Regions from separate parts of the Homo sapiens genome. Here all the other regions are linked to region 2. The links come from fine-mapping of genetic effects on gene expression. A gene starts in region 2. Each other region holds a variant in brackets. All regions are shown on one strand. Distances are between the middles of the regions.

Region 1 (8,000 bases), 28 kb before region 2:
TCAAGGATGTAATTCTAGCCCAGGGAAGAAAATCCTTTTCAGCAGACGCTTCCCTTCCCTTCCCCTAGGGAATGTGTCCCTACTATAGTAAACTCTTCCTTAAGAGAGTTTTATGTTTTCTCTGTCAGATCAATTTGTTTTTCTTAATGTTGTTCCTATCAAAAAAAAAAAAAAGGAAGAAATACAGTCCTCAGACCTGACAGTTTCATTTTTCCCCCCAAGTAGAAGCAATAGAAACCTTAGCAGTTCCAAGACTCCTGGCACTCACTTTTCCTCTCCATCTTTAGGTCTAACCCAGCTCAGCCCAGAGTAAAGACATAAAAGCCTCACATGTGATTTCCTCTTGCATTTTTTCTGCTAGAAGGGTCCACAGTACTTACTTTATGCCTCATCTCAATTGAAGCTGGATGATGAGGATAGTGGGCAGTGATTGCAATTGGGGAATGCATGTACTGGATCACATAAGGTCATGAAAGTCCTTGAAACAGAGCCTTGCCAAGCAGAACCCTTGCCACTCATGGTATTCGATACAGTCTACCCATCTGACATGAAATGATATTCTTAATGAGCCATTCCTATGGAAGATAGCTATTGCCAGGCACATTCAGTCTCCTGGTCTCCCTCTCATAGCTATGTAGGGCCTATGACCTAGAATAAATGGAAAAATGTTATCAGGAGGAAGAGACTGCTGGACTCCCCTGAGAGGTAGGGTTTGTGCTAGGAGAGCTGGGTGCCATTTATTTCATTTTGATATATCAGGTGCTCCTAGTAACAATTCCTAGTTTCTCTTACCTCTGTAATCATCCTGAATAGTCACTGCTTCTTGAGCTTTGGTGAGTGTTCTCTAAAAAAAAAAAAAAAAAAAAAGGTGGAAGCTAATATTTTTAATAACAAAGGGCTGAAGAAAAGCAGCTCAGAATTTTTATTTTTCAGGTGAAATACCTATTGTGAAATCTGTTAACTTCCTTCTGGAAGCCTAATTTGGTAGTATCTACAGACAAGCAGATAATTTCTTGACAAACTAAAGATGACCTCACACAGACCTGCCCACTACTTGTTTTCAGAAGAACTTCTGAACCCAGAGCATTGGCCAACACCCATACAGACTTGAGTGTGAGCTTGCTTTGCTTTTGCTTCTTTTTTTTTTTTTTTTTGAGACAGGGTCTCACTCTGTCGCCCAGGCTGGAATGCAGTGGCACAGTCATGGCTCACTGTAGCCTCAACCTCCCAGGCTCAGGTGACCCTCCCACCTCAGCCTCTCAAGTAGGTAGGACTACAGGCCCGTGTCCCCATGCCCAGCTAATGTTTTGTTATTTTCTGTAGAGACAGGCTTTCACCATGTTGCCCAGGCTGGTCTCAAACTCTGGGCTCAAGAGATCTGCCTGCCTCAGCCTCCCACAGTGCTGGGATTACGGGCATGAGCCATTGCACCTGGCAAGTGAACTTTAATGTGGTATGTTTGGAGTGTCTTCAGGCTTCAGGCCTCCCTGTTCCGTTTGTCCTAAACATTGCAAGCCATGCCCATTGTCTGAATATCCCCTATGGAATTACATAATTCAACTCATATCTTTTTAGAACACAGCTCTTAATGTATAATAGCAAGGCTGCCTGAGCCACCAGCAGAGCACAAGCAGACTGTAGATGGCATTTTTTCTCCAGGTAATACTAACGTTGTGGTGTTTCACATGTGACTCGCCCAAGGACAGAGGGGCAACTGTTCTGGTGGATGAGCTGACCTTTACCCTGCCCTGTTCTTGCCATTAGCATGCCCACTCCCTGTGTCTGTTGCCAAGGACTTGAAGAGAACCTCCGTGTTCCAAACCTGGCTTTATTGATGAACTTTCCACTTGCTACTCCACCCGTGACGGTTTCTGGTCAGCTGCACTTAAATGGATTTTGAAAATGAAAGTGACCAATGGTCTGTTATGAAATGCTGCGGTGCATGAAATAAGATTATGAGCAAGCTTGAGAATTAAGAACAGAGATACCCTAACCTGGTCAAAACAACATGTTTCACATAGTGAGAAAGGAATAGCTCATTCTTAGTCTCTTCTTTAGGACATTTAAGGGCATCTTTTCCTTCTTAATGAAACTCTGTTAGCATGTGAAAAGTCAAACCTAGGTTCTCATTCCACTTTCACCATTTGCTGTCTGACCATGCACACATCCCTTAGCCTCTCTAAACCGAGGGCAATCTCAGTGCCTATTAGAATTTAATATGAACGCTATCCCTAGCATTGTGCAATGCAGCCATCCTGCTAAACCTAATTGCCTCACCTATGTAAGGAGGGTACCTTCTCACTAGGGTTACTGTGAAAATTAAGTGTATGTGTAAACTGTTCCTCACAACCCAAGATATTAAACACTCAGTGAATGGTAGCTTACAGCATCATTTTTATTATTAATAGAAATTCTCTCAGCCGGGCACAGTGGCTCACGCCTGTAATCCCAGCACTTTGGGAGGCCAAGGTGGGCCGATTACCTGAGATCGGGAGTTCAAGACCAACCTGACCAACATGGAGAAACCCCGTCTCTACTAAAAATACAAAATCAGCTGGGCATGGTGGCACATGCCTGTAATCCCAACTATTTGGGAGGCTGAGGCAGGAGAATCACTTGAACCCAGGAGGCGGAGGTTGCGGTGAGCCAAGATCGCACCACTGCACTCCAGTCTTGGCAACAAGAGCGAAACTCCATCTCAAAAACAAAAAAAAATAAAAGAAATTCTCTCAGGGCTTAACTGAAATTTAGGACTTGAACTTCAGTATGTACAAAACCAGAGTAGAGTTCTAGGCTGGATCTAGGTATGTGTGTTGTGAGCAGCATTCAGATTAGAATCAACAAAGAACAACCCTCCCAGTGCTCTTCACTCCCCCAGCCTGTCTAAGCCAGTGATGGCACATATGCATATGCTACCCCTATTCGGGTTGTCCACCCATGGCAGACATTGCCAGTCAGTCACCGCGCTGCTTTGGCTGAGGGCTCAGATCCTTCTCAAAACAGGGATCCTCGCTACTACTACCAGTTGAGAGGATTTGGCACTTAACGGAAACCTATTTTCCATCCTTGGTCTAAGTTTGCAAAGGATTATTTATTTAAGTACCCTCAGGACATCAGCCAGTCTTTTATTCTGTGAAGTAAAATAACATAAGGTCTCTTTGTCTCTGATTCCTCATGGTCCCACACATTAGGCAGTATTACATTCAGTGGAAAACCAAAGGTCTGGAGATAATGCCAGCAAGTCCTAACCTATGCAAGATGCCTTTTCTAGACTTGGCTATGGACTGATAAGGTGATCACCAAGGGAGGGGTGACACCAGGACTCCACACATACCTCATGGATGTCTAAGGAATAATGGTTTGACCATCTTTGCAGTGTTCTCCACTTGCCATAGGGGTATTTGGAGACTAATCTGCCAACAGTGAGGGCTCTCTGCTTTTTCTGTTGATGCAGGTCCTCTGTGACATTGTCACAGCAACTTGAAAATGAGGGATACGGGTATGAACTAACTAGATCCTGGCTGGTACAGGCTTCCTTATCCTCTGACAGAATAGCAGTGCTCCTTTGTGTCTCCATACTTTCCTACCATGACCACAACAATCCAGGATTGCCATAGATTTGTCCTTGACCTGCATTAAGTTGAAGAGTTGGAAGATAGATAGCACAGTGCCAGCAGAAGCACTAAAGAAAGAACTAGGTGGTAACACAGGCTGGGCACAGTGGCTCACACCTGTAATTCCAACACTTTGGAGGCCGAGGCAGGGGGATCACATGAGGCCAGGATTTCAAGACCAGCCTGGCCAACATGGCGAAACCTTGTCTCTAATGAAAATACAAAAGTTAGCCTGGTGTGATGGCACATCCCTGTAGTCCCAGCTACTCAGGAGGCTGAGGCCAAGAATTGGTGGCAGAGGTTGCAGTGAGCCGAAATCGTGCCACTGCACTCCAGCCTGGGCAACAGAGCCAAGACTCTCCAAAAAAAAGAAGAAAAAAATGAAAATGAAAAAGAAAAATCTAGGTGTTAAACAAGACTGAAAAGGATAGGAAAAGGCCTCCAAGAAGAAGCGTTTGGGTCACTGTAGCAAGAACAGGTACCTCTTGAACCGAGAATGAAAGAAGGAACTGGAAACTGCTTCACTGTGCTGTTTTCCTTTTCAGCTTAACATATGCCTTCCTCTTCTCCCCTTTCCCTTCTCTTGATGCAGTCGAATTCTTTTTAATGGTTACCAGAAAAGGATTTGGCATTGGGTGTACAGCTAGAGGTGGAAGATCATGCAAATAAGACCAACAGGTCCCTCCATTCCCCACCAGCAGCCTGCATGTGCCATTTCACTTCACACATCTCTATAATGCTTGCGGTGCTGGGGTGCCGTTACCTCTCCAGTTAAATAAATCTCAAACCACCGACCCAGGGTTTTCATAGCAGTGCTGCAGCCATATATGAGGAAATGCAACAAACAGTCCATTAGCACTGATTGGATATGGATTTTTGGCCTGGCCACCTGCCACTTGGTAATTTTAGAATAGGGTCACTTTTGGAATTGAAGATGCCTTGTGGGAGGGGACTGGTGTTTGCTAAATAGCTGTATCTTACCATCATGCCCTTTCACAGCCAAGCTCCCTACCTCTGGAGTGAGGGGCTGGTCTCGTGGCCTGCCTGGCAGAGAGGGCTAGAGCTCCTTCTTCATCAGCTTCC[A/G]GGGCTGCAGACGTGGCCATTTCCAAACACCCAGGGTGCACTTAACCACTTCCTCCTCCTAATCTCAGCATTTCCACTCTAACACATCAGCAGCTTTGTAACTTACTTTCTTTTTTTTTTTTTTTTGCCCTATGTTTTGGCCCTTGATGTATTTGTGGGAGGAAGATGGGTAGACTGGCTAACTGTGATATCAACTGATTTCTGAATGATACAGTTATACCCTGAGTCAGTTTCTGGAGATTAAGCAAGGGTGCCAGGAGCGTTGTGAAGGGCTCTCATTGTTTTTACATGTCAGTGACTGCCTGCCTTGGTTTTGCCAGCTGCAAAATGGAAGAACTAAGCCCTCTTTTGCCTAGAGAATGCTAAAAGGTGAATACTCAGGTGTGGTGGGGAGGTTTCTAAGGACACCCAGACCCCAGATGATGCACTAAGAGTGCTGTGTGACCTGAAGAGGGACCTCTGGTCAGAACATTTTTTTCTGTCACCAGCAACTGAATAATTATGCCCAGTTGGTAGAATAGGAGAACTGTTGGCCTGGGACCCTGAGATCTGACCATGATGTTCCCCATTGGACTAAACTTTGGCCAATATTTCCTTTTCTCTATGCCATGAAATCTTTTGCATTGCCTTTTTCTGGACATGAGTAGAGTACTGACTTTGGCTTCTGATAAGCAGCATATCCTAAAGAGAATCTGTCCCAGAGGACTTAGGGGTTCCTTCAGTCTTTGCCGCTCTGGTTGCACTATTCCTGAGCTAAAGATGAAAACAGACATCAGATGTTCATCTTTGTGTTATGGGTTGTTATCCCCAGCCATCATAACCGTGTGTCTTATTTCCTGGTTGTCTGCATAAGGCCGTATTTACATAGAGTTTGCAATCTTGCCTGTGTGGTCAGTATCCGTTTCACCCTAGGTTTACAGCCAGACCTCTAACATTTGGACCCAGGCCTCTGATATTCATGCCATGTCTTTTGCCCAGAGTGTTTAAAAGGACAGGCCTGTGCCCTAGCTGCCGTAATCTTTGTTATTTTCAAGTACGAAGCAAGATAGCTTTGCCTTATTTGCTGTCTGTCTATATTTTCTGGGCATGTCAGCCAGGGAGTGAGGTTAGTAAGGTATAGCTAGAGATTGCCCTTGAAGCTTTTGATTCTTGCTTTCCTGTCCAGAATTATAGTCAGTTGTTGAGATAGCCTATCCCAACACCACTAACGTGTGACAACTTCAAAAATTCATGAGGCCTTGGGATTCACAGCACCTCTCAATAATCTAGCCTTGTATCAAGCGAAGTAGCCCTGTTGGAGCATTGCCAGCATGTGAGGTGCAGAGGGGCCCTCCGTAGCCAGCCCTTCAGCCCTTCCAGGTGTGAGAAAGGGCTCTTCATGCCACACTCACATGTGCACCCACGCATGCCTAACACCCAGTGACTGGAAGACTGCCTCCAGGGAAATACATGCAGGCTTACACCGCCCAGACAGTCTTTCATCTGTCCTTCCTCTTTCATTCTTTCACCCGCCCCCTTGTGTTTCTGTAATTTGTACAGTATCGTTGAAAGGTGTTGAAGAGATCAATAGCAATTCACCTTTTCCCTTATTGATTCAAGTGATGGCAAGAAAAAATGGCAGGCAGTACCAATTCATTTGTCATGAGCTATCCATTTCCTACCAAGCCACCAGTGACCTCTCCCAATGCCTGTTAGGTTGCTGATTTACAGTTGGGATTACTTCTTTTTCCAACCTGCTTTGATAGGAATGAGAGAACCACTGTGTTTGACTCCTGTAATCAAAGCTGGGTGAAGAAGGAGACTGCAGGTACTGAACAGGAAAACTGCTGTGGAGCCTGGTCTCCAACTCCGAGGCTTGCTTTATTTGAGGAGCTCCCCACCTGTGCTGGGCTCTCTAGCAGAGGCAATACGGCATCAGCTGATGGAGCTGCAGTCTCCCCCAGCACTTCTCAAGTCCCCACCCCCAGCCCCCGACCTTTTTCTAAAGGACACAGCCTTCCTTTGTTATCTTTTTCCACAGAATGTAAAATGAGTGTGCTGAGTGAAAAGTCCATGACCCCTGTGAACTGGCTCTGCTTTTGCCAAAGGTGCAAAGGTTTGTCATTCCCTTCATGAGCCTTCAAGTAGTAACTTCAGCTGACCCTGGGGGAATGTGAGGTGCCCAGGGTCTGGCCTTAGCAGGGCTGTGGGTGAAGGAAGTGTTCTTGTTCTTAGAGGGTTCTGTATCCACCAGGAATGTAGAGTGGAGACAGTTCTTCTCAGCTTCTTTTTCTGCCCTAGAGAAACAAGCATGGGAAGGGTGCGTGCGTGCGTGCGTGTGTGTGTGTGTTCAGCCTCACTGGGAACAGTATCTTGACTTTCACTTGGAAAAGGTAATGGTGGATCCTTGTGTGTGTGTGCGTGCATGTGTGTTTTGACCAGCCTCACTGGGAACAGTCTCTTGACTCTCATTTGGGGAAAGGTAATGGGGTATCCTCCCCCCACCTCCCAAATAGGACAGTTAGCTGCCACACACTTACATGCACATTTTAAAAACTGTGCATTGCGAATGGCAAATATGTATTAGTTCACTCACCTGGTGGGAGGACCAGGGTTCTTTGAATCCCAGGACTCTTAAGAGGGAAGTTGGCACTGACTACAAAGCCAAAGCTTGGCTAACCCAGCTGCTGCTTCTCCTTTATGTACCATATTTTGAAGGTTGTTGGTTCTTACACAGAAGCAACTGTTGTCCCCCACACCCAGTGTGGTCACCAGGCCCTCTCAACTCCCATCAGTGCTGAAGTTTGCTGCTGTGGCATAAAGTGAGCCAATTCCCAGAAACTCCTGCCTATGTAGACTTTTGGCAGAGAGGCTGCATTTGGAGGGCTACCTGGAAGAGAACCCTGCTCAGCCACTTACCTGAGTGGGCAGTTAATGGTGAGCAGTGGGAGTGGCAGTTCCCAGGGCTGGTTGTTGCCAGCATGGAGGTCGCAGTCTTTGTGTCAGCCCGAGCACACAGCCAGCCTTCTCCGGAGGAGCACTGCCATCTCAGTCTTGTTTCCTGAGCGCCGAGTGGGTTGAGGTCACTATTTTAGATGCCCCTCTCCCAGTAGCGAGATTTTGTTAGAAACCCAGTGTTGCTGTGTCAGGTAGCTCTGCAGTATGCGGATGCCAGGCCTGGAGAAGGCAGCCAGCTCTCTGTGAAGCTGGTTAATTACATGTGAAGCTGCCAGCAGGACAATTGTTTTTTTTCCCATGGATCATTAATAAACCATTCTGGCCTGGCAATTCCATCATCTTCCTCAGCTTTGTCAGACGGATCTT
Region 2 (8,000 bases):
CTCCTGAGGGGGCCTGGGAGAGGGAAGCTTCCCATCAGTGTGCTCCATTCAACAGTACCCCATGTGGAACTCCATGTGTGCATGCGTGTCACTTGTAACTGTGGATCTCACAGCTTTTTTGTGAACCATCCTGGTTGGGAAAGGCTTCATTACTTTACGTGAGCCTGTACCCTTTTCGTCTCTCCCTTTTCTTTGCTACTCATGTTCTGCCCCCACCCCATCACCACAACCAGTTGACATCCGCTGTAATAATCCCTAATGAATCAGCATTTAGAAGAGTCACCAAATCACAAGCATGAGAAAAGCTTCCACTCCCAAGCTCCCCAATTCAGGCTTCTCCTCCCTCTCCACCTTAAAACAAACAAAATCTTTTTTAAAAATCATAAAATGCCATCATTGTCTACAATCATGTGTCAGAGTCCAGGAACAACAGGTGGACATGGCACAATGCTAATTTATGGCCTCCTGTGAATACATTCTCTCTGCTTTACCCTCCCTTCCCACCCCCCTGCTGCCGCACCCCTTCAGGGGCCTCCTCCTCCTGGGAAACCCTGAATAGACACATGCCTTGCAGAGTGGGTTAAGCCCAACTGCAGGAATCTGGTGCAATGTGAAAGCATTAGACTGAGAGCTACGCCAGCTCCCGTCCTTCTCTGCTCCTTTCTAAGCAATTCTGTCAGGCAAGGCACATGTGTGTCCAGTGCACAGACCCCCAAGACTTGTGCACATGGACAAAGACTCAGCCCCTTTAAGGGTTCGTTTGAATTTTGGTGGTTTTCCTGCTTAAAATACATGTACAGGTCTATCTTCCCCTTAGCCTCTGAAGAAAAATATTATTGCCACTATCATTTTGGCACAGTACAAATTCATGGTGCTTTTTTTTTGTATTTTTTTTTAATAAGATAATTCTGCAAAGACAGCTCTCGGCTTAAGAAAGATGTCTGTAGAAATGGATAGTCCTGTGTCCTATGAAGCATCTTCTAAAAAATGACAGATTCAGTCTATCCCTCTTGCCCCCTCAGCAGCCCACACCCTACCTCTTTAAGGATGTTTGTTGTTTTAGTTTATTTTATCTCAGCAATTTCAACCTTATACCAGAAATCCCTTCTGGCAGCATAGCAAGTTAACTTGTGGCTTGTACCCCACAACGTTCCCAAGATTCCCCCCCACCCCCTTTAAATAGAACTTACAAGTTAGAAAATATTTTTGTTTTGACTTTTTGTCTTTAAATTTTAATATAATCTGTTTTTTTTAACCAGCCCATAGACTTAATATATAAGCATATACAAGAAAAAGTCTCTCCCCACTCTGTACAAAAGTTGCTGTCTTTGTGTGCATTCTATTGCATTTTATAAGTTTTTTGGGGGAGGGGAGTCATATTTGAGTTTCCTGTACCTTGTCCTTGGTATGGGTCTGAATTATATAAGGTTCAGAGATAGTGGTGACTGTGGGGTGCAGAGAGTTCCCCAGGCTGTTTTCTGTCCAGTGGGCCCCATGTGCTGGTTTGTAGGTGTTGTAGTTAATATGGTCATGAATTGTGGGCAGCACTACTGCCCCCTCACCTGATACACCGGACGGAGCTGCTGTTGCTGCTGCGGATGTTGCTGCTGGGATGTCTTCGTCCACCTGGATTATCTCAACAGTCCGGGCGGCTGTGACTGTACTCCGCTGCTGGTGCCGCTTACGAAGTTTATAGAAGACAATCAACATGGCGGCAGCTAGCAGAGTCACTGCCACAAAGCAGCCAATGATGATCTTGGTGGTCTTCATGACTTCATCCAGGCTGGTCTGCATCTTGTCAGTGGTGTCTGTCGCGGGTACTGCCACCTGCTTGGGCACACGGGTAGTCTGAATGAGCACCGTGGTAGAGGTGGTATATGCCGGCTGGTAACCAGTGGACGTGGTAGGAACAGGCTTGTACTTTCGCGTTGTGTCCTCAGGCGAGATCTCCGTGGTCTCCACTGTTACTGTGGTGAAGAAGCTGTAGTTGGAGGTGTTAAGCTCAGCCGTGCTCACATTGAGGTAGGCCGAGGCGTTGGAGTTGCCTGCAACATTGGTCACCATGCATGTGTACACCCCAGTGTCTGAAAGCAGCACGTGGGAAAAGTTCAAGGTGCCGTCGTTGAGGACAGAGATCCTTGGGTGGCGGGAGGCGTGGCTGAGCACTGTCCCATTGGGCAGCAACCACTTCACGGAGGACATAGGGGGAGTCCGACACTTAAGTTCTGCCATCCGACCCTCAGAAATGTTGAGGTCTCGAGGTGCGTCCATGATGAAGGGGGCAGAGCACTGGAAGGAGGCCTGGTCCACCTCCACGAGGTAGCGGCCTCGCATGTGCATGGGAGCATGACAGCGGCCACAGCAGGTGGAATTGGTGGGTATATACTCTCGAAGCCACCAGGCTAGCCACAGAATGTCACAATCACAGTTCCAAGGGTTGTGGTGTAGATGCAACTCCACCAGGTACCTCAGCGGGGTAAAGAGGTCATGGGGCAAAGAAGAGAGGTTATTGTGGGCCAAGTTGAGTTCCACAAGTGAAGCCAGCCCGTCAAAAGCATTCCGCTCAATCAGGCTGACCTGTGAGTTCATGACCCAGAGCTTCTTGAGGGAGCTCAGGCCATGGAAGGAGCCAGGCCTGATCTCAGGGAAGTGGTTCCCTGACATCTCCAGCTCCTCCAGCCCCACCAGGGGGGTGAGATTGGGCATGTCTTTAATGTTGCACATGCCCAAGTTCAGATACTTGAGGTTGAACAGCCCCTCAAAAGCTCCCTCAGAGATATACTCCAGCTTCTTGAGCTCCCCCAAGTCCAGGCGCATGAGGGAGGGCACCCGGTTGAAGGCGTAAGAGGGGATGCTTTCGATGGGGTTGTTGCGAAGCCAGAGCTCCCGCAGCTTGGACAGGTATTCAAAGGCCCCGCTAGGGATGACTGTCAGCCAGTTGTCGAACAGCTCCAGGGTGTTGAGGCTGGCCAGGCCGTTGAAGGCCCCCACCTCAATCTGCCGGATGGAGTTCCTGCCCAACTGCAGGACCTCCAGGTGGTGGAGGTGGCGGAAGGTGTCGGCCTGGATCATCTGGATGTTGTTCTCCATGAGGTTGAGGTACCGGGTGTTCGAGGGAATACCCTGCGGGACCTCGGAGAGGCCCCGGCGCGTGCACACCACCTTGCTGAACTGGTTACTGCACGAGCAGACGGAGGGGCAGTTCTGGGGCCCGGCTGAGGCGGCAGCAGCGATGGCTGCACACAGAATCCACACTTGCGCCGTGAGGTAGACGAACGGGAGCAGGATGGCATTCCAGGTGTGGTGGTGCACAGTTACCTGCCACAAGAGCTTCATGGTGTGGCACGTTCATAATTCACCATCGCCTGGGATTTTGGCTCGGAAAGGAGAACCAGCCCTACCCCGGCTTAAGTGAGCTAGGAGCTCCTCTTTCCATCTGGAGAAGGAGGTGGGGAGGGGGCGATTAGAGAGACGGAGCGGATCGGCCGAAAAAAATCCTGCCAAACTCGAGCGGCCCCTGGTCTCCCAACCCACCCTCAAGGCAAGCCCTCCGAAAGCTACGACTCTCCCACACTGCAACCGTCCCCACCCAGTTCGCCGTCACCTACCTCGGAAGGAAGGCAGGAAAGCACTGGCGTGGTGTCCTTAAGCTTTCTCCACGGGAGCTGGGCACCTCGTTCCCATTCCGACTTCTTAGTTTTAATTAACAAAAGGGGGAAGTGGTGGGGGCGGGGAGGGCAGAGGGGAGGGGAGGGGAGGGGAGGGAAGGGGTGGGGGAGACAAAATGGCCTCTAGTAAATCCGGAGCCGGAGCCGGCGAAGCCGCGGAGTTGAGGCGCGCCTGGGAGAGCCAAGGCCCGGCGGGCTATGCAGGTGCATGCCCCCCCCTCCGCCCAAGGAGCGGCGCCACCAGCGCTTCCCGGCTTTGTCCTTGGACCCTGGCACCGGCTCGCTCCAGCCGCGGGGGAAGGCGCTTCATCGCCAAAGTGCGCTCCGGCGGCCCCGGCCCGCTCTGCGGGCCGCCGCCGGAGGGAGTGCGGGGGCGCCCCGAAGCCGCCCAGGCCGCACTCGCTGGATGCTGCGCTCCCTCTCCCGGCGTCGGCCGCTCCGGGCCGGCGGCAGCTGATTGCGGTCGTGAGCTCGCGGAGCGGCGAGAGTTAAGAGGAGGTGTTCGCGGCGCCTTCGCCCTCCCCAGACACACACCCCCTTTCTCCTCGCCTCTTCTCGGAGGGTGGAAGAGACAAAAACGGGGGGTCAGTTCTCCAGTCCGCCGGCTGCCGGCACGCGGGGCGGCGCTCCGTCCGGCCCCCGAGGACCAGCGGCGTGGCGGCTGCGCTCGGACCCGGTCCGCCGGCCGGAGGAGCGCGCGGCGCCCGCGGTCGCGCCCGCACCGCAGGCCCCTTCAGAGAGTCCGGGGGCGGGCGCGGGTCCGGCGGCGGCGGCGGCCGCAGCCCCCGGCGGCGCGCAACCGCCCGTCGCCGCCCGCCGCTGCCCGGCCCCCGGCGCGCCGCCGGCTCCGGCTTTGTGCGGAGGGAGCGAGTTCGCGGCTTCGGCTCCCGGCGCCCTCAGTGGCCGCGCCGCCAGCGGACTGCTGCAGCGGCGTGAGCAGCGGGGGTCGCGGCTGCGGGAAACGCTCCGGAGCCCAGGAACATAGTCCCCGCTGGCTAGCGGCGGCAGCAGCAGCAGCGGGGCCCCTGCGCGCGGCGCCCACCGTCTCCTCCTCGCGCCGGGCTCGCGGTGTTGCAGGCGGCAGCCACGCAGACTGCTCTCTCATCCTTTTGTCCTTCAGTCAGAACGTGAATGTACTGCTGACGCATACTGTTCTGGGAGAAGATTAGCGTGATGCAGTGCTCTTATGTATTAGCGCCGCTCCCCCTCCGTCGCCTGCCTCGCGGGGTTAACGCCGGCGCCTTCCAGCGCCGCGCCGGCCGGCGCCGCGCAGCCCCGCGCCTCCGGCCGCCCGTCTTCCTCTTTCCTCCTTCCTTCCTCCTCTCTTCCTCTCTCCCCCTCCCCCCTCCCCCCTCCCCGGGCCGCTTCCTCCCCGCCCCCTCTAGACGAGCGGAGCGGGGCCAGGGCGAGCGGGCGAGCGAGCCGGAGTGAGCGTCAAGTGAGGGGCCGCGCGCAAGTCGCAGGCGTTCGCAGCTATTTTGGGCCGGTCGGAGGGAGCAGTTGGGTGGCCGCTGATAGGCTGGAGCGGCGCGGGGCTGCGGCGGGAGAGCCCGCGCCGGCCCCCGCCCTCCGGCCCGCACCCGGGGCCCCCTGGCTCTGAAGAGCGGGGCTCAGGGGCCCGGCGGCCCGCGGCGGGGCTGCTGCATTTGGCCTGCCTCTCGCCCGGCCCGCGTCATCCTCACCCCCGCTGACTGCTGACGGGGCGCGGACTCGCGTTCGGAGTTCGGAACTGCGTGGTGGGGACTCGGGGGACGGCGGCCGGGGCCACGAGGCTCCCAGGACCGAGAGCCCGGGCTTCGCTGCTGCACTGCCGCCAGCCCCTCCTTCGCTTTGCCTCACCCCTCCTGTGCTCTCACTGGGGCTTTAAATGAGGGTTTCCTTAATGAGGGTTGCGGGGGCGGGAAACAGTGGCAGGAATGACCAAGTGTGATGAGCTGGGGAATGGCAACCTGGGACAGCACAGAGGCCGGCAGGAAGGATTGAGGTGAACTCCCGGAGCCCACGACACAGCCCGTTCATTCATGGAGCTGCAGCCGCGGCTTCTCAGTCTTCGCTGGCCGGAGTCGCCCCTTGCTCCCCGCTGCCCCCAGAGAACTGGGGGAAGGGAGGCGGGCGGCTGAGCCCCCTGCCCTGTGAGCTCGCCAGCCCTTCCTTGGCTAGGACTCTGAGAAGAACTGCGTAGCAGCCAGGGGTAGCGATTGGGAGTGGGGGTGGAATTCTTGCTCCTATTTCTGGTAGGAGACCCTAAGGCATTTGACAGACTAGTGTAGGAGAAGGGGACTAGGTCAGCTTTTTCCCACCCCCCTGAAAAAAGACTGCCCCTTTCTCTGCCGACTGTGGGTGAGGCAATCTAGCTGAGCCCTGGGAAGCCGGTCCAGTAGAATATAGCATGGTTTAATATCCCTTCCCTTCAAGAGCTGCCTCCAGACTCCTCAACCCACCCCTCTCCCCGTGTGATTTCTGGCAGGCTCGCTTGATAAACCCTCATCACCTGCGCGTGGGCTGTTGCTTAAGAACGAGGAGGTCCCAGATTTCTCAGCTCTCTGGTTTCTACCACACCTATTTCTGAGTATTGTCTTTTGCCCAGTAACCTGAACCTCTTTAAATACGCCATGGAATACTTGAAGTCCTGGAAACGGTTCCTTTGTAGGCAAGTTGGAGTCCCCATTCTTTGCCAAGACCTTTCTGTTATCATTTGCTGTCAAATAATAACCTTGTTAGTTTCTGTTTATTGAACCCTTACTCTGTATTCCACTGCAACCCTATTATTCATTTTATATGAGTCAAACGTTGCCTAGGGTCACTAGTAAGTGATAGTGGATTTGAGCCTCAGCACGTCTCAGATGTCAAGAAACTTGGGTGTGGAAGTGATTCCCCAAAGTATTCTCCTAGTGGGATGAGAACTCAGGTTTCATTCATCCACTTCAATAGTCATTTACTGGGATGCTTATCTACTATGTACTATCCACCATACCAAGAACTTATATCTGTTCTTGTTTAATCTTCATTTACCCAGTGAAAGTAATTGCCACACTTGTCTCCATTTCACAGATGAAGGCACTTAGCTTAGGCAGGCAAATAACTTGCCCAAGGTCACACACTAGAAAGTAACAGAGCCAGCCTTTCCATCCAGCCTTCAAACCCTGAGTCCGATGTTTTCATCACTAACAGGAATGCCCGCTGTGTCTACTCTTCATAGAGTAAATGGTGGAGGCAAGTGGAGGGGGGAGGAGAGAGAGACTGTAGGAAAGTTCAGTGAAGGATGTGTCAGAGAAGTAAGATGAAGGGTAGGAGACGGGCTGAGAAAATGAACTCTCATCAAGAAAAAGAATGAGGGAGACATGGAGGTAAGTCAAACCCTGATACTGGGGTTTAGTTCCATCTGGGCACTCAGACTTTCTGGTGAGAGGTTCTGCTCCTTTATAGCTGGCACCGACCTAGTAGAGTCATCTATTGCCTGAGGAGACCCCTGGCCAGGGTCTGGATGGCAGCGATTAAGTATGACTATCCTTCCCTCCTCAGGCAACAGGGTCTCTGCCTGGGCTGGTCCTCTGCTACTGTAGGCAAACTCAAACCCTGTCTGTTCAGCTCCAGGCTCCACAAATGAAAGCTGCTGCCCCGCACTATAAAGGTAGATGAAAGTGGGGGCCGAGTTGGGTCAGACCAGTACTTAGTAATGAGGTTGTCTCTCAGTAAGTATTTGTGACTGCCATCCATGAAGGTGACTATGCCCAAGCTCTGTCGAGCTCTACATCAGGCTGCTTTGCCCCCTGTAAGCCAGCTGGGCCAGGAAAGCACCACTGAACCTACTAACTGGACTACAGAGGAGGCTGTGGGGCCGTCGTTGCACACAGCCCTTCTGAGCTGAAAGTGGGATTGCAGCCTCTCATTTTGGTAACCCAAGTACCATCTAGCTATGGCATCTTGCTCCTCACAGCCCGTGGCTCTGACTGCTTCTTGGATTTGGAATGGTGCCACCAAAGAATAAGAAGGAAAGAAGGCTACTTACACCCTAAGAGGAAGAGACAGTGGATTCAGATTGTTTTCACTTGCAGTTTCACACAGGGAGACTGCTGTGATAACGCCAGAGAGAGCTAAAAAAGCCAGCAGTGATTGGGGAAGGCCTGTGTCAGCAGCCTGGTATTATAGAATGAGCCCTGTGCTAAGATTGGGATACCTGAGTTCTAGTCCCCTTTAGACATGTGACAAATCTTAAAATAGCTCTAAACATCAGTTTTTCCATTTATAAAATCAAGGAAATGGATTAGAAAGTTTCTTACCGCTCTCTTAGTCCATGATTCCTGTCCCATCTCAGATATGTAGCTCTGTGAA
Region 3 (8,263 bases), 68 kb after region 2:
GTTGGGTCCAGTGAGTGCCAAGGTCATCTCTCTGGGCTCTCGAGGAGGCAGCAGATGCATGCTATCTATAACAAGCCACAGCAGTGGGTGGTGCCCTGGGACTTTAAGGGACAGAGGCCCTGGCCCAGGTGGCTGGGAAGTTTCCCAGAGGAAAGGAGAAGAGCTGGGGCTAGCAGATGGTGGGAAGGCATCGCTTATCTCTGGGCAGCTTGAGGAGTCTCCTGGTCTCCGAGGGTGGATGCAGCAGAGCCCAGGGCTTGGGAAAGCCACCAGGGAAGTATTGGTGGCTGAGACTCCTCCGCAGCGACCTCATCTCCCTCCTCTTGCTGGTGGACAGGATTAGTAGCGAAGGCGGGCAGTGGAGAGAAGGGCTCCCGTGACTGCCTCCATTTTATTTATTGGTTTGATTATTTTTGCGTCCTGGGGAGAGAGTGGACCCCGTTTTTTGCATTAGCCCATATTGGGAAGCAATGGGGATGGGCTAGAAAGCTGGTGCCTCAAGAGTGGTTATTGATGTCCTAATTACAAGAGGATGCTAATTTAATTTGAACCTAATTACAGTGCACTACCCTGGGTGGCATGTGTTTTAATAATTAACGTCCTTCAGATGCGTAGGAGTGTAATAATATTTACACTAGGTTGGCCAGCAGCCTGTGGAGGCGGACTGGGGGCCCATACACCACCTTCTCCCTGGACAGCTTGGCTGTGAGCAGGTGGGGAAGAAGGCACATGGGTCCTGGCTGGCGAGTATCTTGTCATCCTTCCCATGTAACATGCTTGGGCCTCATTTCCAGCCACTTCCTTGACCCAGCAGGCAGCTTTGCTCTGTGGGGCACCAGGCTGGAACTCTGGAATACATCAAGACTGGCAGGATCAGGTCTCTGGGCTCCAGCCCCAAACCCACCTCCCCAACCCCAGTCTACCACACAGGGATGTTTCTGGCCTCCTCAGCCTGCCTGGTCCTATTCCGGGAAGGGCTTGTTTAAGGGGGAGTTTAGGAGGGAGGAAGGAGAGCTGCTTGGTTTGTCTTCATTCCTGTAAGGGAGGTAACATTTATAAGGAAATAGACACATTCGAAAAGGTGCACAAATGAAAAGGGTACCGCTCAAATACAAAGTGAACATTACCCACATAAACAGCACACACACCAAAAAGCATCAGCAGCCCCTCATGCACCCCTCCATAGCCGCTCTCACCCCCAAAAGTAACCCCTCTTGACTTCTATCCCAGTAGATGATTTTGGCCTATTTTGTTTGTTATGTTTTTATGTTGATTTGTTTTTCTTGGTTTGCGTGGCTTTACATTTTACATAAGGGGACTCAAACCATATGTATTCTTATGTGCCTGATGTCTTCCACCCAGCACACCTGTGAGATTCATCTGCGTGGTTAGGTTCATTTTAGCTTGTGCATTTTGTGTGGTCCATTGTATGAATACACCACTCCTTGATTATTAGAAGTCAGACATTGAGCTGTCTGCTAGGGCTGTGTCAGGCCCTAAAGGAGAAATCTGCTCATCCTAATGATGCAACTGGGGGCAGAAGGTGACATGAGATGAGAAGGGGAAGCAAGATGACGGGGCAAGGCAGTTCCGTCCCCAACAATCCCAGAACAGTGTGCTTGTCTGTGTGACCCCTGTGCCCAGCCTTTCTGAGCCTCCACAGGTAGGGACAGGGCCTACCAGCAAGTCCAGAAGCCAAGCAGAACCAGGGGCTTCAGAAATGGGCCATGGGCACTTTGGTGTCGCCACCAGCTCTCACTAGGCACTAAGTGTGGCTGGCAGGCCAACTACATCAGAATCACCTGGGGTGCTCGTTAAAATACAGCTTCCAAAAATAGTGCCAGAACTATATTAGGAGTGGTGGGGGGGTAAGTGAGCTGAGTCCTCCTCATCTGTCATAGCAGGAAGACAATGGGTAATGTCTGAAGTTGATAAAACAAGAACTAGCTTATTATTTAGCAATAAGATAGTAACCATCAGATCAAAAACATGATTAAAAGTGGTTGCCTGTAGGTAGCACACTAGGGATGGGAAGCGCTGCTTTTTATTATAATCTCTACTATTGAATTTTCTAACCATTTGTGAGTGTTTTCAGTGGTCTTTTTAAATTCATTGTCATGTAAATATACATGTATCTAAGTGCCACTCCAGACCTACTACCCCAATCCCCGTGGGGTGGGGCCTGGGGATCCACTTTAACAAGTTTCCTAGGCGATTCTGATGAGTTCTCAAGTTCAAGAATTGGCTATCACTGTCCAAACTCATTTTATAGGATGAGAAGGGAGACAAAGTGACTTGCCCAAGGTCACCCAGTTTATTAATGGCAGGGCCAGGAATAGAAAACAGATCTCCCGGCCCCAGGCCTATGATTTTTCTCTCCGTCATGGCTTTCGCCTTGGAGGGTATCCATCCCAGCAGGCCTGGCCCTCGGGGGCCTGCAGGGTGAGCTGGGGTCCCAGTTCAGACAAAGGAGGCTAGGGTGTCGTTGCACAGGGCGGAGGAGTGACTCCTGTCACGGGCCCAGAGCCCTCAAGCAGGCAGATATTTCTAACCACTGCATGTTGACAGTGCCCTGGATTTCTGCAGATCCATTGCAGGAACCAGCACATGCAAAAATGGGGCTGCTCCTGTGGCTCTGCCAGCAGCAACATCTTTGAGGTTTCTTTCCCCAGGATGGGAATGAGTCTGCCCTGAGCCATCCATAGCCCCTGAACATTCAGGCATTTAGCATTTCCTGAGCTGCTCCAGGCACTGTTCTAAGGGCTGGGAGAAAAAGGGAGAGTTATCTTTGGCCTCGTGGGGCTCACAGTATACTGAGAACAGATGTTGGTGATAGAAAGACCTAATTGATGTAATTGATGTATGTACAAATGCTGTGGCCTTAGCTTGTGGAGTTGACAGTGGCCATGCCCCATCACCCAGCAATTTCCTCCTGGTTCTGTGGCCAGGGGCTATTTGCATGTGTTAAGAACAACCCACCGGCTGGCGCGGTGGCTCGCGCCTGTAATCCCAGCACTTTGGGAGGCCGAGGCGGGCGGATCATGAGGTCAGGAGATCAAGATCTTCCTGGCTAACACGGTGAAACCCCGTCTCTACTAAAAATACAAAAAAACTAGCCAGGCCTGGTGGCGGGCACCTGTAGTCCCAGCTACTCGGGAGGCTGAGGCAGGAGAATGGCGTGAACCCGGGAGGCGGAGCTTGCAGTGAGCCTAGATCGCGCCACTGCACTCCAGCCTGGGCAACAGAGTGAGACTCCGTCTCAAAAAAAAAGCAAAAAAACCACCAGGACCCATATGCAAGAATGGGCACTGCAGCTTTGTTCCTACAAACAGAAATGAGACACTACAGGCATGGCAAGGTATTCACACAATGGAATATTACTCAGCAATGAAAATGAACTGTAGCCACACAAAGCAAGGATAAATCTCAGAAATAATGTTGAATGAATAAAGCACATCTCAGAGAACTTCATATCATATAATACCATTATTCTAAAGCTCAAAACCAAAAATACGTTGCTTAGATATACATGTATCTAGGTGATCATTTAATTTATTGTCCAAATAGGGATGTTTTTGCGAGCAAAAAGGAACACAAATTCTGACATTTGGACTGCAAGTGTAAGTTGACACTATCTCCAGTAAACTGGGACATGTGGACACCCCACATATATGTATATAAAACATAAAAGCAAAGGGATGATAAACACAGAAATCTGGATGGTGGTCACCTCCAGGTGGGGCAGCGGACCCCAGGGGTGAGATAAGGAAGGATGCTGGGGAGACATAAGTGACTGGGAATGTTCTGTGTGTTGGTCTGGGAGGTGGGTCTATAGATGGCTATTACATTATTAAATTAATAAAGTGTAGGAACTCAAAGGAGAAAGCTCTTCCAGGGAGGTGAGGAAGGTTTTGAGGACAGGGTGACAACTTCAACAGTTTACCTGATAAACAATGGGTCTGGTTGAGGGAACTCACTGAGCAAAGCCCTCTCATGGCTGGTGGGGCTCTTCTCAGAAGGCTCTCTGCATTCCAAGTCTAGCGTGTGGCCACAAAACTAGGGACTTTGTTCTCACCAGCCCTGGGCACTGACCAGCTGAAGCCCCACCCTTTTGGGAAAAAGCAGCCATCCAGGACAGGGAGAGCTGACCAGGCCTGCACGAGACACTGACTTCAAGGTACCCTGCTCACTTCAGATTAAAGTGTAAGTTACGGGAAGTGCACAGATCTTAAGCATATGTGGATTTTTGCGAATATATATAGTGAAGCTACCATTTGGATCGACTGTAGAACATCAGCATCCCTGAAAGCAACAACTTTTACCCCTATCACCATAGTTTGGGCTGTTCTTGGTGCCAGGGTCTTTTAAAGGACATTTTTTCCCTGAAATAGTCCTGACGACATGATGGGACCTTACAATCTCTAGGTATCTTTGCCAGAGTGCCTGTGCCTGGGGCTTGAATTGACACAAGGTAGGATAGGGGCTTCAGAGCCCCTACCCCCCCAACCTCTTCACAGCTGCCTCAGAACCTTAGGCAAGGCCAGCAGGAGACAAGGGTCCCTCACCCTGCTGCTTGAGGGCCTTGGCTGTGTCTAGCCAGGCAATACAGACCTATTATCCCAGCTCAATCGAGTCATTCTAGGCCCTGGGCCCAGTCACTGCTATGGATCAGGTGATACTGATGCAATTCAGTGAGCAGGCAGCTTCAATCTATAGGAGTCATCTGGGCCTGGGAGATAGGCCAGCTCCCCCTCCACTTGGGCAGATCTCACTCTCCTGCAGCCACGTGAATGCCACAGGTCTAAGACAGATCCTGTGGTGTTAACATTTTGTGTTCTCAATTACGTAGAACAAAATGAGGCCAAAGCTACTTACGGTTATTCTAAATGATACTTCTGTTTGGCTTC[A/G]CAATGCGTTTACATGCTTGACTCACCTGTGGTCAGCAGTCTCAGCCTCAGAGATGTCACAGTAGAGGAAATGGTATTGATGGAGCCAAGTCCGCCCTCCAGCCCACTGCAGAAACAACCAAGCCTGAGTTGGCCACCTCCCTCCAGCCTGTCCTAACACATGCTCAGGACAGGACCTGACCAGTGGGTAAGGAGTTTGGGTTTCAAAGAAGCAGAACCATAGGCTGAGTTCAGAGACTGAATCAATAGATAGATAGATGTCAGACAGACTAATAATTATCAGGCCAAGTTGGTGCTGGTCAAGAACTTGGCCATGAGATTGATCTCAAGGAGTCAGTGGTGGAGGATATGGTTGGTTCTGAAGGCAGACGGGCTGAGCTTGAGTCCTAGCGTGCCGCACGCTAGCCGAGTGCCCCAAGTGGGCTAATTAACCTTTCTGAGGCGGTTCCCTCATCTGTAGACTGAAGAATAAAAGATAAAAATTCCTACATCGTAAGGTTAATAAAAGAATTCAGAGGCCAGGCGCGGTGGCTCAAGCCTGTAGTCCCAGCACTGGGAGACCAAGGCGGGAGGATCGCTTGAGCCTAGGCATTTAAGACCAGCCTGGGTAACATAGTGAGACCCCAGCTCTACTTTTTTTTTAATTAAAAAAATAAAAAAGGAATTCAGTGAGATTTGTAAAGCACTTTACACAGGGCCCAGCACAGATTCTGTGTTCAGTGTTTGCTGTTATCACCCAGGGAGGAGGGTGCAGGCATGGAATAACCTCTCTGCTCTTGAGAGCATTGTGGGGTTGAGGCCAGAAGGGAGTCAAGGTGTCAGGAGGTGGGGGGTGGGGAGGCTGAGATGACTGGGCTGAGTCTCTGGCTGTCCAGTTGTGGAGTGATGGGAAGCAGGAGTCATGCACACCCAGGGCAGGGGGTTCCATCCCTTCACCTTGCTGGCGTGGAACTAGTCCTGTAGCTAAGGTGTTCAGCGCATGTGCACTGAGTACCTGTCGTGCCAGGCACCATTTGGGTGCTGAAGTTACAGAAGCAAACAGCACAGAGCTCCTGGCTGCATGGACTAGGGAGAGGACATATGCCCATACTCACCTGGCATGGAGGACACCATGCCTAGCCAAAACTTACACATAGACACTTTGCCTCAGACCTGAAATCTGGATTTAGACAGCAGAAGGAAGTTAGTGGTAGGGGTTGGGGTGTGTGTGTGTGTTTGTGTGTGTGTGTGTGTGTGTGTGTGTGTGTAGATGCCTCTTGGAGGAGCCAGTTCTGATTCACAGACCTGAAAACCAGCAGCAGAAAATGACTCCTCCCTGCTGATGTGGGTGTAGTTCTGGAGAAAGTCCTGTGCTGGGGCTGAGTGGACCATGGGCAGGGAGTGGGGTGGAGCAGGGGCAGTGCTAGGGGGCAGGATGCTGCAGTGCACCCCACCCACCATGGGAAGCCCCGAGATGGAGTTTACTGGGGCCTGGATGCAGGGGGAGCAGCCAGTATCACAGCTGCACTCCTGCCTCGACTCCAGCACATAGGCCTCACTGGCTGTGAACAGGGAAACACTAGTCTCAGGTTCCCAGGGAGCAGAGCTATGCAGAGGGAGCCCTCCAGAGTCAGGCGAAGGGCATCATGCCAGGCAGGAAGTATTAGCACTGATGTGGGGGCACCTCCTAGGCCGTCCTCATGTCCACTGTGTGAGTGGCACACAGTGCATGACAGTTGGGGACATTCCCATTTGACAGGGTGACAAACCAGAAGAGGTGGGTGCCTGATTCCAAGTTACACAGGGTGTGAGGAGCTGCACAGAGGCCACCATGATGAGCCACTTACATGACCTTGACCCCTAGTGAGAAGGACCCGTGTGGGCAAAGACAGATCTGAAGCTGCACTTTACTCAACAGCTGGGGAGGGCCGTTTCCAGAGGGGGCTTCACAAGGTGCAGTCGCACAGGCACTCGGGTTTGCAGGGAGGAGGATGTCCTTGGGAACTAGCCTGGCGGCCTTGTCTCATCTGGCCTGATCTGTAGAGGGCAGCTCCCAGGGGGGAGACCCGAGGCAGAGATCACAAATAGTGCCATGTCTGATCAATTGATAGTGGCTCCCTGGGGTGCCCTGTAGTCAAGGATTCTAAGGTCATGCCAGAAAGTCAGCTGTAATCAATTATTAATGTCTACCAAGGGTGTGGGAAAGGGGGATGGTCATGTGTGTCCCATATATTTGCCATCCTGTGTCAGTGCTTTCATGGGAAGAGGGTTCAGGAATCTTACTACATCAAAGTAGGGGGCACTTCCACAGCATCCTTGACGCAAGTATCCACTTCTGCTTGCAGAGAGGGCTGGAAACTCCCTCTCAAGGAAGTGGCGCCCAAATCAGTTCTTACCTCGTTACTGCTATCGTGTTCCAATTGCAAATACTGTTTTGCAGTTCATAAGCAGAGTTAAACACCTACTCTCTGCTGGGCACAAGGGACCCACAGCTGAGCCAGTCAAGTCCCCTGATACTATCTGCAGATACTTGAACCTGGTAAACTTCAGTGAGACCACTTTTCTTGGGGAGAGGGAGAGGCCCCTAAAGGCAGGGACAAGAGAGTTCTCCAGAAGCAGGAAGAGTTAAGGCCCTGAACCTGGAGGTGGCTCCTTGGGCATTTCCTGAAGACCAAGCTTCCATTTTCCTCTGGTGCCTTCCAGGCCAGCAGGCCCTGGAGCAGCGCTTCTCAAACTTTAACTTGCTTGTGAATCATCTGGGGATCTTGTTAGAATGCACATTCTCCTTCAGTAAGTATGGGGCAGGGCCAAGAATCTGCATTTCTAACCGGCTCCCAGGAGGTGCTTTGGGCCAAAGGACCACCCTGAGGAGCTATCCCCTCCCCAGCCCTTTCAGGCCAGAGGCTACCAGCAGGAGGTAGTAGGTAGAGAAGCCCACCTGGTTCCCACAGAGGGCTCCTGGGAGGTCTGACCAAGGCCTGAGTTTGGAGGCAGGGAGCAAACAAGACTCATGCTACCTAAAGCCAGAAATATAAGGGAAAGAGCCAGACCCTGGCACAGCTCTGCAGGAGAAGCTGCCTGAGGAGAGGGGCTGGGGCTGAGGCTGGTGAAGAATCTCTGCTCTAGGAGCTCCAGGGCCAACATAGAGTGCAGGCAGAGCTAAGCTCTGGAGTGTAGGCTCTCTAGACTGTACACCTCCAAAATGATCATGATGTCAGCAGCAGCTCAAGATCTGTGTGCTCCCACAAGGGCTAAGCACTTTATGGGTAGTCTTATCAGGGAAGGACCCTTCCCCCGGTTTTACAGATATCCTCTGGAAGACAGGCCTAGAGTCCATGACTTGCAAGTATTCAATAAATGATTTATGAGTGAATGAC
Region 4 (8,000 bases), 120 kb before region 2:
TTTTTGTGGCTTAGAATCCTGAGAAGCCCAGAAACCTGTAGCTAATGGCCTTTGAGCCACAGGTAACTATGGTGTATCTGCTAATGTTCATTTTTAACAGGTGTAACTCATCCAGTGCGATGTTACTTGGCCTGTTTTCTGTGTAGCTTACCCAGCTGAGTTATTCTTTGCATATATATTGCTAATATTTTTATGTATGTGCATGGCATTCTCAACAATGCTTTCCTTAATATTTGTCTTTTGGTAAAGCTGTTATAGTAATAAAAGGGCAAATTTTTGGTGGTTCCTCAGCAGGAGAAAAAAGTTATAAGTGCTTTGGAAAATGCAATGAAAACCCGTCTACACAAAGGGCCAAATATGCCCATCCAAAAACTTATGTGGGGCCCATACTCCAGGGCCTTCCAGAAGCTGATTTCAACCTTAGGGATAGGCTCTCTCCTTGGGCCCACCTGAGTTCATTTCTAGTTCTGATTTGGCACCAACAGTGAGGTGAAGCAACTCTAAGGAGGTTTTGAGGTTCAGGCACACCAGTCTCAGGGTTGTCCTCTCCACACCCCTCAGTGTGGTATCCTAAAGATCTTTATTGCTGTCTCTGAATCTTATGCTGCCTCCTGCCTTGATGATTTCTGATGCTTTTTTTATTCCTTTATTTCCGTTGTCATTAGCAGTGGGTCTTGTGAAACTTGTCTTCATTTATTTATTTACTTTTGTTCCTACCCCACCAATTCCCCCTTAAACTCTAGCTCAGTTTCATACCAATTTTTATTATCTTTTCTGTCTCAGTATTGGAGGATTGGTTTGCTCTTAAGTTAAACATAAATGCCAATTAAATTTCTCTCAGTCACCACATAAATAAAAGAGTAAAGCTTGAGCAAGTGGGAGACTGAAAGTGAAAAAGCTGCTCGATTTAAATGGATGTCAGATATGACCTTGTCTGCCTGAATCACAAATTATTCACCTAAGAGTGCAGTTTTTTTGGTGCCCTCTTTAATAGAGGAGTTTTGTCTTTTCCCACCTTCTTCCCTTCTTTCCATCACAGTGTTAAGTCTGTGTGTATGTTGGGTGCCCTTGTTCAATTTAAGTGAGATGTATGGGTTTTCTGCTTCCTGAAGCATGCTGGCAATTTTGCTGTCTGTGGGACAGGTGTGAGGTCAGATGGGCAGACGGCTTACAGCCAGATGAAAAATAAACAGGGAAAAAGACAATGTAATGCACATATACGTAATGGTTTCACAGAGGTTTCTTAATTGTTTTTTAATCTTTAACTGTGTTACCTACTGCCCCAGATTGATCCCCCTCTTAGTTGCAGGCCATGATAAATGGAGGTTTTTGTTGAGCTGACAGTGTAGGCAATATCTGCCAAAATAATTTACAATGAACTGGTGTTTGTGCATAATATCTCTCACCACCCTCCTCTCCATCCCAGTACACATTGTTGGTGAGGAAAAAGACATGCTTAAGTGCACATTCTGTCTCCTAAACACTCTTAAGAAATGTGTTGTATGGAAGAGATTATATCATAATGGTGGAGCAAATAACCTGTAATTTTGTTCTAGTGTTAACTGCCTCCATTTTAGGGGTTGAGTTTCTACTCCTTTTCCATGATCTCTTCTCTTGCTGTTTAAAAAATGATTTCACAGAGTAAAGGTCAGAGTGCGTTAAAATGCTTTTGTATGAAGACCTAGCAAATACAAGACCTGCTTGGCTGATTGCTTATGGTTGGAAGTGACTCATCTAAGCACAGGAGTGTGAGGTTTATGGCTTAGAACGTAAGATACCAGCCTCTGTAGTGGCCAAATAAGCCGGCCTTTTTGTTTGTTATTACAGATGGGTTTTGATGTCAAGGTCAACTGAGTTTTGAGTTGTCCATAAGATGGACAGAACATCTGCATATAACACCAACTGAATGAACCCCCAGTTTGTCTAGGGCTTTGATAAAAAATTTGGCCCTCTAGACCGGGCGTGGTGGCTCACACCTATAATCCCAGCACTTTGGGAGGCCGAGGTGGGAGGATTGCTTAAGGTCAGGAATGCAAGACCAACTTGGTCTTGTAGTCAGTGTAGTGAGACCCCATCTCTACCAAAAAAAAAATAATAATAAATGTGTGTGTGTGTGTGTGTGTGTGTGTGTGTGTGTGTGTGTGCGTGCGTGTTGACCCATCTGCGTCTCTTACACCTATTTTTAGGGTAACCACTAAAGGAAGAAAATTACATACTCCCAAGCTGGTACCTTAGATCCTGAAGAAGTTACTGGTTTTTTGTTATTTCCAATTTTTCACAGAGTAGGAACTGGGCTATTAGAAGTACCAGCCACTGCTGCCATTTCTATCATAGTCTAGTTTCCTTTCAAGCCAGGGTGTTCCAGAGTGTGTAGAACCAGCTGAGAATTTGACCGACTTGGTACTAGGTCTTACTTGATTTGAAGGATGGTTCTGTGGTGACTGACTTCATACATACATGTTTTCATTATTAGTTGGTTTTGTTTTTCATTGATCCTGTCTGAGCTCCCTCCCTCACCAGCATAGAAAAAATTGGAGTATGTGTGTCAGTGTTCTTTATCTCAGGTTTCTCAGCTGTTCTTTATCTTAGGTTTATTATTGTTTTTGCTGTAGCCTGCTCCGTAATAAATACAATCTCCTGCAGATACAGAGTGTAAAACAGGCAATAAAATGGGGCTGGTACATGGCTTACTGTTGTTCTGGTAGATCAGACAAATCAATTATGGTTCTGAGATTAGAGAGAGCTCCCCACTCCTCAAGTTGCAGCCAGCCCTGCGAGTGCTGATTTTACCATTTACCTTTACCTCCACTTCTCCATCTTCCTCTTATATGGGAGTAGGACTCAATGAGTCATAGTGTATATCTGAGTTTTCTTCTCTGTCCTTTTCCTTTTGTGTCTGTCCTCTGTGCATGAGGAGTTACGATGTTTGTTTGATGGTACAAGAAGATAGCATCCTCTTCAGTCTTATTTCTGAAAGTCCCAGAATAGGGATTGTCTTCTTTTGAATATATTCTGCCATTTCATATTATGTAGTCCTGACAGCTCCTCTGTTAATTTCACTATTACAGTATTTACTCTCTTAATCCATGGGTCTTTTTAATCTGTTAACTGCTGCTGTGCTCCTTTGGACGTTTAATCACATCATGGCTTGGTTTCATGCTCATGTCACATAGCACTTTTTTATAACCACCTTTCTCCGTGACTGATTTTGTTAGAAATACGTAGTATTTCTGATTTTTTTTTTTTTTTTAAGGATACGGAGTCTCACTTTATCACCAAGGCTGGACTGAAAGTACAGTGGCACAGTCATAGCTCACTGTGGCCTTTCACTCCTGGGCTCAAGTGATCCTCCTGACTCAGCCTCCTGAGTAACTGGGTCTACAGGTGCACACCATCACACCCACAGGATCTTGCTATGTTGTCCAGGCCAATCTGAAACCCCTGGCCTCAAGTGATCCTCCCACTTTGGCCTCCCAAAGTATTGCTATTATAGGCATGAGCCACCACCCTAGCCTAAAAATTAAGCCATGGTTTGGAATGATCCAGTGACTAGCTTTGGGGAAGGTGCAGGGCACAGGGGAAGAAGGTCAGACATTTGGGGCCCTGTTATTCATGAAACGAAGTCTTACAGAGTTGACCAGTAGGATTCTGACTTGCTAATGTGAAGGATTGAAGTGTTCCTTTAAAACAGTTAGATAAGATTAAATCAATAGATAAGAAATAGATTGGTAGACAGGGTTGGATTTTCTCCAGCATCTGCTCCTGACCTCTGCCTTCAGTTTCTGGTTTTCATTGCCCTCTTAAACTTTAATAGCACTGTCATCCTTTCTTTGAGGTTTCTGTAGGTGTTACCTTTCCTTAGCTCTTTATTAATATTTAGGCCTTGATGGAAGCATAAGAAAAAAATTATTACTCTTTTTGGCTAAAGAGAGTTTTAAAAAGCCCAGGCACGGTGGCTCACGCCTGTAATCCCAGCACTTTGGGAGGCTGAGGTGGGCGGAT[C/G]TCCTGAGGTCAGGAGTTCAAGACCAGCCTGGCCAACATGGCAAAACCCCATCTCTACTAAAAAATACCAAAAAAATTAGCCAGGCGTGGTCGCGGGCACCTGTAATCCCAGCTACTTGGGAGGCTGAGGCAGGGAGAATTGCTTGAACCTGGGAGGCAGAGGTTGCAGTGAGCTAAGATAGCATCACTGCATTCCAGCCTGGGTGACAGAGTGAGACTCCATCTCAAAAAAAAAGAGAGAATTAAAAAAAGAAAAAAGTGGTTTGCCTGGTAAGTCTGAAGAAGGTAAAAGGAGCAAAATCACCCAGGGGCTTTATGAGTTAGGTCTGTGTTAAATTGCAGTTTTTCTTATATGTTTTCTGGCCCACCTAGTTTAGATTTATTTTTCTTACCCTCATATGATTCTAATGTTCCTTTCAGCTTTCTGTTTTTTCTAGTCTCTGGTATTTGATGGCACAAATGCTCTCTGAGTGTATTTGTTTTTTGTTGTTTTAAATAGCCCTTCCCTTTTTTACCCCACTTGGCTAAAATCATGGCCCTACATCATGTTCTCACGTCTCTCTTGCCAACTGCAGTCTAAGTTATTGTACAGATGGCACAACATCAAGGCCTATGGTTCTGCCGGGTGGGTTTCTGTGACCTGGAGGGGTTGCCTAGCACTGGAGCTTCATTCACACAGTAGCTGCTGGCTCCACTGCTGGGCTCTGCATTTGGTATCCGAGAAAATCCCAAAGGAACTCTGGAAGAGCCAGCTCACTGTCTGCAGAACTTGCTCTCCAGAGCAGGCAGTGTGTCCTCTCTAAATATGGTTGGCCCCTTGCCTGGAAGCCATGGTTGGTGGGAGTGTTGGGTTATCCTGGTGGCTTCCTTGCCTCCCTGTTGTGTTTCGTAGCTCAAGTTGTCACTAATTTAGGAAAAGCTATTGCTCTATTTCTTTCTTCTTCTTTCTTCAAGCAAAGTTTATTGAACTCTAGTTGGACTACAATGTACAGGTGACTGGCTTGGATCCTCACTGCACAGAAACATGCCATCACCTCTGTGGCACACAACCTCTGATGCCAAAGTGGCAGCCACCTCGTAAGTTTCTCCCAGACTTTGGAAAAAACTTCAAACTCTTTCTCTTTCTTTTCTTTTCTCTTATATTTTCAATTTAATTTTTTATTTCAAAAAAATAGAGATGGGGTCTCACTTTGTTGTCCAGGCTTGGTCTCAAACTCCTGGGCTCAAGTGATCCTCCCACCTCAGCCTTCCAAAGTGCTGGGATTGCAGGAGTGAGCTACCATGGCTGGCCTCTTTTCTCTCTCTCTTTCTCTCTTTTGTTGAGATGGAGTCTCCCTCTGTTGCCCAGGCTGGAGTGCAGTGGCGCCATCTCAGCTCACTGCAACCTCTGCCTCCCAGGTTCAAGCAATTCTCCTGCCTCAGCCTCCTGAGTAGCTGGGATTACAGCTAGTTTTTGTATTTTTAGTAGAGACGGGGTTTCACCATGTTGGTCAGGCTGGTCTTGAACTCCTGACCTCATGATCTGCCCACCTTGGCCTCCCAAAGTGCTAGGATTACAGGCATGAGCCACTGCATCCGGCCCTCTTTTTTCTTTTCACCTCTTCTAAAGCATGTCTCTGCTAAGAGTTGGATGTTACTAAGAAGACCTTGATCTTGATTCTGCCAGAGAGTTGCTTCAGCCAGTTGCCCTCACCCTTATGATGGAAGACATAGCTTTATTGTGTTGGAGTTTTTTTGTACATGGTTTGTTTCTCTCTCTCTTTCTTTTATTTCTTTTTTAAGATGAGATCTTACTATGTTGCTCAGGCTGGACTCGAACTCCTGGGCTCAAGAGATCCTCCTGCCTCAACCTCCCAAGTAACTGGGACTTACAGGCATAAGCCACAACACCTGGCTGTCTATAGTTTCTTTGTTCATATGACAAAGTGGTTCTGTGCAACCACTTTCTGTTTTTTGAAACTCCCCTATTCAAATTTGCCAGAACTACAGGGCCATCCCTCTCTTAAATAAATTTGAAAGCATTTTTGATTTACATGGGAATTTTTTTCAAAATTTCATTGCAGCAGGTACCACAGTTAATGATGGTTGTGTTTCATTACCTCCTTTTGTAGATCTTAGTCCACTTTTTGACTGAGTTGTGTTGTTTTTGGAGGGCACCCAATTTAGGACATGGTTTCTCACTTCTCTTATTTAGCTTCATTTAGTTGGGCTGTTTTGCATCTTTGTAAATAGAGATGTAGAAATGTAGTCCTGAAGAGATACAATTGATTCCCACCCTGTAAGAGAAATGATTTCAAACTTTACATTTTTACTCCCTAGTTTGACTCTGTTTTTGCGTCTGTAGCAAATTCACCTCAGTATTCCTAGTAACTTATCTATATCTGTTCTTTAGTCTCTTTGAGCCTTTCTGGTTCCCTCATTAATTAGTGGGGTTAAAATGAAATTTTCTACATGAGTTTATTTTATATTTGAATAAGAGTCAAGACTTTACCTTATTGAAAATTATCTTTTAACAGGGGAAACAATTGTAGAAGCAAGAGAAATACAAAACCACATATATAGTGGGCAATAAAGGATTATAGAATTATATGCTTTGAAAATCTTAGTTTTGTTGCCTCCTCTGTACCTGGAAACATGAACAATAATTTGGTTGTGAAAGTTCTAAAAAAAAGAAAAATTTAGAAAGTGAATATGTCTCTTTCATCTGCATCATGTCTGGTTCCAAGTCTGTACCTTACTTGGTTTAACTTTTTATTCAGAACAGTCTTGTCTTGGAAAATTCAGGCACCAGAGCAGATAACCTTGAGGTAGGGAGCTAGGATTGGACTTTGAAAGCAGGGCACAGCTTCTTGTCCTTTGATATGAGTGTCCTAGCTCTGCAATTCAACACCTCAGAAAATGTTTGCTCAGGTGAGCTGCCCAGAGGTGGAGCACTGTTAAGAGACAGGGCTTCTTTATTTGTTCGTTCTTATATAACAAAAACATCTTCCTCCCAGTATAATCAGTAGCATGTCACTGTCGTGGATTCTATTATCAGGAAACTTTCTGCCATAAATTTTTCTAGTTTCCTTCTGCTTCCTTGTTTAACTGTGCCTTCACAAACAGGAGTGCATGCAAATGCACTCAGCATTTGCAACAGGGTCCTAGCTTTTAGTGAAGTGTACTGAGCTATAATGATTTTTGCCTTTCTTCTTTGTTCAAAGACATGAGAAAGGAAATTGAGGGAGTTAGGAACATTTTTTCCAAATAAAGTAGCATATTTTTCCAAAGAGAGTTCCTCTGGCCATAGATTTGGCTATAGCTGGTCCATGCTCTTCGGTTGTTCTCTTTCCCATTCTCTGGGTGTATGTAGATAACACTCTATGATTCTATTTCATGGGTCAAAATAGGTTAAATGAGCCCATTACAGGGATGATTGTAAGTATATTTTGGCAGCAGTTGACAAAATTTCAGATTCCCAGGTTGAGGTGTGTGATTGGATTGTCTGATCTGTCCCATGGCTGCTGAGTGATGTGATAAAATTTGAAATATTTCTGCATAGCCCCAGATTCACTCTCCACTTTACCATCATAACACTACTTAGCCTTGGATTGAACTCATTGTGTCCTGTGGCTATTGCTTATATAAACATTTCAAAGTAAGTAATTTCACTAACATAGACATTCTGCTTACTTGTATTTTAAGTCTTTATTTAGCATGCTTACAACATATTCCCTACAGACTATGTCGTACAGAATTTTGGACACTCCTTGCAGTGTTAACATCCAGATATTTTGAAATTAGAGCTCAGGGTTGCTTTGAAATGCCCTGGTCGTTTTCTGCCTCAGTTGTTCAGCAAATGGTGTTCTCAGGAAGAAATTATAGAATTCCTAATACAGTATCGAATTTGGAAGGGGCCTGAAAATGTAAGCTATTACCCAGATTTCTAAATTGGAGGAAGACCTGTGTTATATTGATTTGTATTACTGCAACATCCCCAGATACTTCACCCGCAGTAG

Evidence for each region. PIP is the estimated chance that this variant, and not a neighbour inherited with it, causes the effect. A credible set is the group of variants that fine-mapping cannot tell apart.
Region 1: its variant is the best candidate, but not a certain one, in a credible set for the expression of LRRC4 in whole blood (TOPMed, PIP 0.57).
Region 3: its variant is the best candidate, but not a certain one, in a credible set for the expression of LRRC4 in whole blood (TOPMed, PIP 0.75).
Region 4: its variant is the best candidate, but not a certain one, in a credible set for the expression of LRRC4 in whole blood (TOPMed, PIP 0.71).

What each region holds. Positions count from the first base shown.
Region 1 is chr7:127,999,232-128,007,231 of GRCh38, forward strand. The region is part of intron 16 of SND1 (staphylococcal nuclease and tudor domain containing 1); the gene reads left to right. It overlaps SND1-IT1 (SND1 intronic transcript 1), which reads left to right. Exons shown (of 1, transcript NR_027330.1): 1 at 1-846. Among named protein-coding and RNA genes, the nearest start is that of SND1-IT1, 5.7 kb to the left of the region's middle. RefSeq lists an enhancer at 982-1,141. The variant A/G (reference allele first, on the strand shown) is at 4,698.
Region 2 is chr7:128,027,305-128,035,304 of GRCh38, forward strand. LRRC4 (leucine rich repeat containing 4) reads right to left here and starts at 4,133. Exons shown (of 2, transcript NM_022143.5): 1 at 3,609-4,133; 2 at 1-3,436. The coding sequence starts at 3,336. The coding sequence ends at 1,375. All of the region lies in intron 16 of SND1 (staphylococcal nuclease and tudor domain containing 1), which reads left to right. RefSeq lists silencers at 4,577-4,696, 5,347-5,416.
Region 3 is chr7:128,094,707-128,102,969 of GRCh38, forward strand. No RefSeq gene overlaps it. Among named protein-coding and RNA genes, the nearest start is that of MIR593, 17 kb to the left of the region's middle. The variant A/G (reference allele first, on the strand shown) is at 4,908.
Region 4 is chr7:127,906,217-127,914,216 of GRCh38, forward strand. The region is part of intron 14 of SND1 (staphylococcal nuclease and tudor domain containing 1); the gene reads left to right. Among named protein-coding and RNA genes, the nearest start is that of SND1-IT1, 87 kb to the right of the region's middle. The variant C/G (reference allele first, on the strand shown) is at 4,003.